Regions from separate parts of the Homo sapiens genome. Here region 2 is linked to region 1. The links come from fine-mapping of genetic effects on gene expression. Tissue or cell type: whole blood. Region 1 holds a variant in brackets; the other region holds the start of a gene. All regions are shown on one strand. Distances are from middle to middle.

The links. PIP is the estimated chance that this variant, and not a neighbour inherited with it, causes the effect.
Region 2: it holds the start of PLA2G7, and the variant in region 1 is fine-mapped to the expression of PLA2G7 in whole blood (TOPMed, PIP above 0.99).

The regions. Positions count from the first base shown.
Region 1 is chr6:46,711,456-46,716,607 of GRCh38, forward strand. It overlaps PLA2G7 (phospholipase A2 group VII), which reads right to left. Exons shown (of 12, transcript NM_005084.4): 4 at 4,929-5,073; 5 at 3,005-3,098; 6 at 814-882; 7 at 41-164. Among named protein-coding and RNA genes, the nearest start is that of PLA2G7, 21 kb to the right of the region's middle. The variant C/G (reference allele first, on the strand shown) is at 2,327.
Region 2 is chr6:46,732,523-46,737,674 of GRCh38, forward strand. PLA2G7 (phospholipase A2 group VII) reads right to left here and starts at 2,853. Exons shown (of 12, transcript NM_005084.4): 1 at 2,658-2,853.

The DNA of each region.
Region 1 (5,152 bases):
TTTTAGGTCACCAACCACCTCTCCTTTCACTGCAATGTACCTGCTCATTTCGTATATGTGTCTCCTCCTCTTGTTTCAGGGTTCTAAGGTAGAGCCAAGACTTGTCCCCTATTTCTGCAGCAGATTGGTCCTTGAAATAGTAAGTTGCAGATGCAGATCTATCTCTATAATACAAGCAAAATTATTATTTATGCATGCTCCTTCCCTTCCTCATCTGACCCATGTTTCTCAGTTCCATCCTTGACTCAACTTCCTCTGATCTTTTGACTTCCCTTTCTTCTTCCACTCTATATTTTCTCTTAAATTAAAGAAGACTGTAAAAGAGTTCCAGGAAAAAAACCTTATTGTCTATCATCAAGTTGCAGGTAAACTCAATCCATTCTATCTTCCTAATTCTGGGAGGCAATGTTAGCCATGTTGAAACTCAGTCTCAGGAATCAAATCCCGGCACTGCCACTTACTAGTTGTGTGACTTTGGGCAAATTACCCTTTATCACCTCTATATTCCTCTTCCTTAAAACAACAACAATAATAATAATAACCATCTCATAGGATTGTTATGAAGACTGAATGAAATGGCGTATTAAAAACATTTCGCATAGGACATGGCAGGCAATAAACACTCTAGAAATGTTAGGTGCTTTTAAGTCTTTTAAGTCGATAAACTCAATCTCCTTTTTTGCTCATGATGTTACCATACTTGAAAGTTCCATCAACATTTTAAATAAACTTTTATGAAAATTAGAAACATAGTTATGAGCATTGACATTCCCTGTAGTTGGCCAAAGAGCCCAATTATATCAGGTAACATACCTGTGTTCTACAGCAGCAACTATAAACCCATGAGATGCCAGGTCAATGCCAATAGCAGAATAAAGTGTCCTTCAAAACAAAAAGAGGGAAGAATTACAACTACCAGTCATGATTACAAGGCTGAGTCCACTAATAAAACTGGGAACATGGAGGCCATTACACCCCTGTAGTAGTGCCCTGGGGTGGAGTGGAGAGCTACGGTTCTTAAAGGAGGGTGATTTTGTTCCTTAGGGGATATTTGACAATGTCTGGAGGTATTTTCATTATCATGAATGTGGGCGAGGGTATTTCTGGTGTCTAGTGGGTAAAGGGATGCTGTCAAGCATCCTACAATGCACAGGGCAACCCTTCACAACAAGAGATTATCTGGTCCAAAATGTCAAGACTACTAAAGTTGAGAAAACCCAGGGCAGTGATTATAAATATTGCCTTTGAGAGTTTTGGGTTTTTAATCTTGGCTCTGCCACTTCCCAGCTATATGATTTTAGGTAATTACTGCATTTTTGTCCTCACCTGTAAAATGGGCCTAAGAGTAAAGCATTTGTTTTAGGGTAGTTGTAAGGTTTTGCTAAGATAATGTATATAGGAAAGCAGTACAGTATTGTAGTTACAAGAATGAGACCTGCAGTCTGACCACTGAGTTTGAACCCTGGTTCTACCACTTGTTAGCTGTGTACCTTTAATAAGTCACAATATTTTTGCTGCCTTGGTTCCTTATCTATAAAATGGTGACACTATAATAGTATGCTACCTCATCAGTGAGGATCAATTGAATTAATACATTTTCAGTACTTATATTAGAAACAGGTAAATACTTAACACATGTTAGCTATTATTTAAATGATTGGACTGGGTGAAATAGTTGAAAAATCATGTGCTAAGCACTGCATTTATGCCCTCTTCCACAGCTTCATTTGCACAACCTTTTCCTCATACCATGCATTCAATAGGAAATGTCCACAGAGAATAAAAAGGAGGTAGCTAGAAACTATTTATTTATTGCTGAAGATACAGGACCTTTTCAAGAGGGGGGAATGATATAGCACAGGGATTAGCAAACTTTTTCTGTTGAAGGCCAGAGAGTAAATATTTCCAGGTTTGTGGGCCATAGTCTTTGTCACCACTACTGAACTCTGCTGTTGTAGGACAAAAGTAGCCATAGACAGTGTACAAAAATGAATGGGTGTGGCTGTGTTCTAATAAAACTTTATAGAAATAGGCAGTGGGCTGGATTTGGCCCTTGGGTTCTAATTTGCCAGTCACTAATGTAGGAGAAATCAAATAGCTAGCTGAACTACATTTACAGTGCTGAAGAGAATTCTTTATTGCAAGTGCTACCCAACTTCTTCCCAGCTAAAAGCCATCTCTCTTATTTTCTGAGTTTTACAATCCCTTGAAGTAGAAGAGGGGTGACAGGTGAGAAAGTGGTGGAAGAAAGTGAAGAGGGTGGTTGTTGTTATGAAAATGTGCCACTCAGCTATCATGCTACAGACTGCATAGCTTACTAAAGACC[C/G]TATCCAGCTCCTGCCCCTCTGTATCCATCACCATGGTCAAGTGGAAGCTAAGCATCCAGTGAGCTGCTCCCAGAGACTTGGCACAGCATGGGTACTAACATTAGCCCATTCCTATGAGATACAGGACTCTTGATAAGCAAATATAGTCCAGCACTCCTTCCATTGGCCTGGCTCAATATTTCTTAGAACCATGCTTCATTCTGAAGCTCTTCTTATCCAATCCTTCTCCCTTCCCCATCACCTTTTCAGGTGTCCAACCTGTGTCATGGTCCAAAGGTTCTCCCCATCTTTTCCTGCTCCTTCTCTTGCCTTCACAGATATTTCTCTTAATAACAGTCTTTCCCAGCTAATCTAAAATTGGTTTCTCAAAAGTTCTAAACTTTACAGAGGATAATTTTAAGAGTGTAAATATTACAATAATGAAGGACAACTATAGAAAATGCAACACCCTTTCTTCTCTGCTGTGAGGCTAATCCCAATGAGCTGATAGTAGGGAAAAAACTACTTGACCAGACAGGTCTAGGACTGATCAATAGACCCACAGCCAATTATTGAGGAAACCCAACTCCTCCAGACAAGGGCCTGCATGACATTCCAAACTCTGCTATTTCTTTCTTGAATAAAAAAATTGTCATTTATTCCTGGAAGCCAAAATTGTTCAACCTCTCAAACATTACCTGAATGCCCCAAGACCATGAGAAAAAACAACAAGTGGATATTTTTCACCAGGCCTCAGAGGGGAATTCCAGTTTGCAGGAGTTGTCATTGAACCTAGACAACAATGGAAGGTTATAGTTAAGGTTTTCTCTGAGTGTTGCTAGTGAATTTAATTCATATCTCATTAGCATAAAATGCAGACCCATCTGATTTATATCTACTTTTTTATGGATGAATAGTAGATTCATTAAAAAGACTGCTACTAGATACCCACCAACCAAAGAGCTGAACTGTAAGTTTTTTTTTTTTTTTTGAGATGGAGTTTTGCTCTTGTTGCCCAGGCTGGAGTGCAATGGCACAATCTCGGCTCACTGCAAACTCTGCCTCCCGGGTTCAAGCGATTCTCCTGCCTCAGCCTCCCGATTAGCTGAGATTACAAGCATGCGCCACCACGCCTGGCTAATTTTATATTTTTAGTAGAGATGGGGTTTCTCCATGTTGGTCAGGCTGGTCGTGAACTCCCGACCTCAGGTGATCCACCTGCCTCAGCCTCCCAAAGTGCTGGGATTACAGGCGTGAGCCACCGCACCCGGCGTAAGTTCTTTCCTCAGACCATAGGATCATTAACGATGAGTTCTTACTGACAGCTCTGGACTTAAGGTGAGAGATTTTCCCACTTATAGGTGTATTCATAAAGGCTGCTACTTACTGCCATTCCCAGGTTTTGGAAAAATTTTAAAGGGAATGTTCTGAAACCAAACTACCCATAAAACCTTGGATACATTACACTAAGAGCCAGAATCTAAGAAACAGAGACTCTGTTCATTATGATTTGGTCATAATCATGCAGGAAAAGGTAGAGAAACCACTGACTTCATACTGAGTCATGGATGCAGCTCTGCCACTTCCTAACTATGGATCTTGGGCAAGTTCCTTAAACTTTCTGTACTTCAGATTCCTCTTCTGTAAACTTCAGAAAATGATATCTCTTTCATAGGGTTTTTGTGAGAATTTTATTTAATTAGGTAATATATGTAAAGCAGTGGTGCAATCCATCACATAGTAAGGGGCTCAAAAAATGGAAATATTGTCTTCTTTCACTTCTCAATTTTTATTGTCACCATTATTATCAGCAATCATTTGTGTTTCATTTTCTCATCTATAAAATGCAGATGCAGTCATAAAGACTGAATGTGATGATTGCTATGGAAGTGATTTATAAATTATTTTGCAACATAAATATGCAGAGTTATGCTATTTTCATGTCTGTTATAAGTGGTTTTTAAGAAAATTAAAAGCCGATGTTTAAGATGAATCCCAAAATTTGTAGATCGTTTTGAGGGGTAAATGTGAAGACACAGTTAACATCAGTCCAACAGTAGTGTCTAGTCAAACAGATAAGGAAGGAAAAGTCTATATTAGCAGAATGTAGACAGTAAGTGAAGAATACACATCAGATTGTCTTAGCGATGGGGGTAGGTGATGGGAATGAGAGTAGAGTCTCTTCATGTATGACAAGAAAGGCATTAGCTTTGACTCCTTTGTTTTGGATCTGGAGAGTTTGATGGCTTCTACTTTCTTTCTCTTTTTGTCTAACTTTAGCACAGAGCATGCGGGATAGTGGCCACACCAAATAACCTGCTATTCTCACCACGGTATTGCCTTCTCCATGGTATGTCAGATGAAAACTAAAGAGCAGCCACAGAAAGATGTCAGAGTCAGTCTGATACTCTCGGCCACTCCCATCCAACTCAGAATGGACAAAATGAGAACCTTGATTCTGTCGTAGTTGCCTGGGCTTTAAAGAAATACTTTCCTTATCATTTTAGGAGCTATTTGGACTGAAGAAAAATCTACTTTGGTCTTAACTACTTGAAGTTCTTGTTGTTTTCAAGGTTTTCATACATGCAAGAGCCTACAAAGAAGGATCAACAGAAATCTTACCAAAGAGTAACCTCAAAATGTTGCCCATAAGCCAGTGTGTTCCAAGAAATTTGCTAAGACCCCAAAAATATTCTTTATTTGGGATCCAAAGGGTGTCAAGGCGATCATTATCTTGGGATGGATAATATAAACGCAAGAAGGTGCCCTGTTAAGAAAGAAATTAATGCACTTTTAGAGAAGTTGTGTCTCAAACATATTCCAGCAGCTATTTTGCATATTTAATT
Region 2 (5,152 bases), 21 kb after region 1:
CTGTACTCAGTACCTGGCACTTAGGATCTGATCAATAAATATTTTTTGAAGTGAATGAATGAATGAATACAAGTTCTACTAGGAATCAACTAGCCCACTTAATTCAATGAGCATCTACTCTTACAATAGACTTTTTATTTCTCCTCAACTGCTAAGTTTCTTTAAAAACCAAAAACCTACATGTTTGTATGTATTAGCCTGTTTCTGTTAGTGTTGAGTCACGCCCATAAAATTGAGCAAAATGACAGTGAGGGCACATAATGTGTCTAACAGGTGGCTGGCGTCATGAAGAAAGTCAGTAAGAACCCAGAATCATATTCTGAAACAATACAATTTTAGAACTGAATGTTTCTCTTCAATTTCCCTTCACTCAGTACTTTCTCTTCAATGCTTTTATTTTATGGAAATTTCTCAACATCTTGAGACGTCAGTCAGGCTTATTATCACGAATCTTGAAAAAAAATTAGGCTTAAGAGGAATCAGAGTGTAAATAATCCAATATCCACCTTCCTTTCCAGGAAATAGCCATCTTCTTGGGTATCAGGAAAAGGAAGATAAAGGGGACTCCTAAACTGACTTTCCCAGGGGCTCCCACTCCAGCTGCTCAGGTACCCAGTTAGCACTTTTCTTAATGTTCTGTGCTGACAGAGCTTCAAAGAGTGTGGTAAGTCATATTCATGTGCAAAGGTGAGAGTGAGGGAATGTGTTTAGGCCCATGTATGTTCCTCACAACAAAAGTGCAAAGGGGACAGAGACACAATGGAGAGGAAATGAGGACCCAGCTGTCCCAGGTTCTGTCTGAGGGAAAAGTCCTGCGGTGCTAAGCAAGCCCTTCCACACCTCAGAAGGGATTTCTCAACTGTAAAATGAGTGGCTGAACCAGATTCACAACACTCCTAATGCTGCAACTCCTTCAGTCTTGCTGGCTGTACAGTAGGCAGTCACAGACTATGGTGCCAGCCTTGGGTATGAAGGGCCCAGTTCAATGAAGAAAGACATTGAGACATCACCACATGGCCAGCAGCAGCTTCTGGTGCACAAATATCTGGGGAGGGGAAAGCACTTTCAGTGCCCAAGTGCAAGGAGCTGAAGTAGGCCTGCTGGAAAATGCCAAGGTGGTGCGCTGTCTCACCACTTTCTGCAGGGCCAGCAGAATTCCTCTGTGAGGGAATCTGCCTGGGTGATGGAGGCTCACCAGTGCCTCGTGACCAGAAGGCCATCTGCTTCTTCTTGATCAGGCCAGTGCTTAATGCTCAGATCTCTGAATTCAATGTAAGCTCAAGGTTTCGTGCTGAGCCTCTTGGGATTGCCAACACCTCAGGGGATACATTTTCCAGCTCCTACCCATATACCAGTCTCCCAGCTCAGCATTCTCATTTGGATCAAAAGTAATTTGTGCAAGCCTGATTTGTTAACACATCCCAAATCTGAATCCGTGTGCCTTTTAAAGGTGGCAAGCTGCCATTTATGAGCCATACGCACCTCTCCTTCCTCATCACCACTGCAGTAATCCCAAGAACCACAGGCATGAATAAAAGCCCGAACTTTTCGTTTTTGGTGACAGAAATTTCTCTTACAAGCTCCAGGAGATGATGAGGAAGACAGTGTTCTCTGTTTTCTGATTTTGCTTAATTTTTTAAAAATGAGCCTCTCCCTTGACTTGGTGACACAGCTGTGATCTTATCTGGCCGGCAGGGGGATGCTCCAGGTAGGACAAAGAGTGCTTTGTTTTGTTCTTACAGCAGCCACGCATAACTGGGCTCCAAAAACGCAATACTCCTCAAAGGGAGAGTGAGAGAGAGGGAGAGAGGGAGAAGGGTGTGTGAGAGAGAGAGCGGAGGGAGAGAGAGAGAGGAGGCAGAGTGAGAGGTGTGTAGTGGTGTGTGTGTGTGTGAGAGAGAGAGAGAGAGAGAGAGAGAGAGAGAGAGAGAGAGAGAGAGAGAGAGAGAGAGAGAGAGAGAGAGAGAGACGGAGAGAGAGATTGTCCCTGTAGGAGATCTACAGATAAGAAAACTCCGGGGCGGGCGCGGTGGCTCATGCCTGTAATCCCAGCATTTTGGGAGGCGGAGGCGGGCGAATCACGAGGTCAGGAGATCGAGACCATTGTGGCGAACACAGCGAAACCCCGTCTCTACTAAAAATTCAAAAAAATTAGCCGAGCGTGATACGGCACGCCAGCAGTCCCAGCTACTCGGGAAGTTGAGGCAGGAGAATTGCTTGAACCCGGGAGACAGAGGTTGCAGTGAGTCGAGATCGCGCCTCTGCACTCCAGCCTGGCGACAAAATGAGACTCCGCCTCAAAAGAAAGAAAGAAGGAACGAAAGAAAGAGAGAGAGAGAGAAAAAAAAGAAAAGAAAACTCCATGTGTTCCCTGCCTGTCCTGATTCTCCCCCCAGCTCTGAGCTCTTAGGGTTGCTTCCTTTCGGGAAAAGGTTTGGAAGAACTGGTGTCTAATACCGTCATCCTCTCCCTCTCCCCGCAAGGATCCTAGCGCTGTTTCCGAGGGCTGCAGGGACTGTGAGCCCAGGACCGGCCAGCAGAGCGGGTGCGACTCAGCGAGCCCACCCCGGCCGGTCGCCGCTCCGGGGTCCCGACCTCCAGCGCGGCGACCGTGCCCTTCCTCCCACTCCCGCCTCGCCCCCGGGGCCCCTCCTCACTCAGGCGCGGCGCGGAGCTGCTCGCGGGAACTGGGGTCCCTGGGCGCGTTCCACCGCGCACCAACGCGACCCAAGCGCTCCAAACCCGACTGCTTCTCGCCGACAGCACTGCGAGCCTCCGACCAGCCGCTGTCCCCCTGGCTGCGGGCCGAGCAGCTCTGGCAGGCGGCGGGCGGGTGGGCTGCGCGCGGGCTGTGTCCTGGGTCCGCCTAGCGCGGCCTTGTGGCCCCGACCCTCTCCTCCCCTGGTGATGCTGGAGGAGGTACCGGGGAGGAGCGTGTGTGGCCCCGGCCTCTCACTAGCAGCGGCGGCTCCCGACGCTAGCCTGCTCGAGCGCACCCAGCACCCTCCCCAAGACCATGGCCCGCACCTGGACCCGCGGTTAACTTAGCCCGCCGCGGAGAGAGCCAGGCAATGCCTGGGTGGTGTCGTGCTCACCAGCTCCTTTCCGCAGACCTGATGCCGATCAGATTTACTCCCTGCTGAATTCACCCCCCAGTCAGGCCGGTTTTCCTTGTTTCACCGTGTTCTCTGAATACACTGAATTACTCCGAGCATCTATAGTTGGCAATGCCCTGCGCATTTTCCGCACTCCGATACACTTTACACTGAACACCAATTCGGAAGTTGTGTGGACCGTGCTCCAGATTGGAAGGCCTGCCACTGTGCTGGTGTCATTTCTCCCTGGAAATGACAATGAAGGACAATCAGGAATAGCACTTAGGTCTGAGGAGAAATGGAGCTAGAAGGAGCCGTTTCATAGCTCAGTGTAACACAGAGTTATTTGGGGTTTAACTGAAACGCCTTCCTTCATCTTCCAATGTTTTCTCTTCAATCCACTTTCTAATAAATTAAAAACACACTCATTTAAAACTTCAGCTAGAAACTTAGGGAAAGTAGTTTGAAATTTATGTGTGGTGTTATTAAAATTTTATATTTTTAAATCGTGTTTTGGTTTTTGGTGAGGTGCCAGAACTGGAGATGAAATTTTGCTTATTTTGATTTTGAGTATTCTGCAGTAAGATGGCCTGAATTTTAGCTTGTTTCTCCCACTTATGAGTGGTGTGACCTTGGGGAAGTTCATCATCTCTGCTTCTCGGTCTCCTCATCCATAAAATCAAGAAAATCAAAATCAGTCAGTCAGAGGCAGTTTGTGAGCACGAAATGCAAATACATGTGAAATGCTTGGGACAGAGCTTGGCCTATGGGAAACATTCATTCAATATGTGTTATCTAATATTGATAGCTTAATGAAGCAGTGACTCATTTAAACCTAACAATAGATTTTATTTTTAATTTAAATGGAACTCTATCCGCCTAATGACATTGTCTTGTACTTCCTGGACTAACCCCCTGTAAAACAAATGGCCCACAAATATCAATCTAAAAGGATACATTATGCCCTACCAAAGACATCTCTAACGTCTTCTTTTGACCTTAAGACAAAGGTGAAGACAAAGTTGAAGTTGAAGACCTAATCCCACACTAAAAAGGTGGTAAGCTTTGAGAACAGCTCCTGAAAACAAGTATGCAACATTTTATTCACTTCTCTCATTGCCAGCAACATGTCATCTCCCATTGTCATTAGGTCATATTCTCTGAGCAGCCCCACAGCAGTTGGCATTTGGCAGGTTAGTGCCCTGAGAAGATGCCCAGTGAAGAGTGCCCAGATTTAGCAAATAAAAATGCAGAACATCTGGTGAAATTTGAATGTCAGATAAACAATAAATAGTTTTTTAGTATAAATATGCCCCATGCAATATTTGGGACATATACTAAAAAGTTATTTGTTGTTTATCTGAAATTCAGATTTAACTGGGCTTCCTGTATTATATCTGGCAACCCAGTAAGTAAAATTAATAAAGAATATTCCTCACATTCCAAGAGGATAAGTCAACACAGACATACAGATTATAAGGTGTGTCTGATATGGGTTGTTTTAGTTTTTTATGAGTTGGTTCTTTGTTATTCTGTTTCCTACATTTAATTCCTCCTCTCATTTCCCATTGACATAACAGTACCTATTTCCTCTTTAATATGAATGAAACTGATGTCTCACCTCTTCCCTTCAATCAAGATATTAAATTGTAATAATGTGCTCAATTTCTTTTTCTTTTCTTTTCTTTCTTTCTTTTTTTTTTCTTTTCTGGAGATATGGTCTCACTCTGTCACTCAGGCTGAAGTGCAGTGGCATGATCACAGCTCACTGCCGCCTTTACCTCCCAGGCTCAAGCAATCCTCCTACCTCAGCTTCCCAAGTAGCTAGGATCACAGACACATATCACCACACCTGGCTAAATTTTTTATTTTTATTTTTTGTAGAGACAGTGTCTCACTATGTTGCCCAGGTTGGTCTTGAACTCCTAGGCTCAAGCGATCTTCCTGCCTCAGCCTCTCAAAGTGCCAGGGTTACAGGTGTGAGCCACTGTGCCTTGCCATGCGCTCAACGTTTTTTTTTAAATTTGAATAGTGTTTACTGAGGTGAGGGCCAGCTG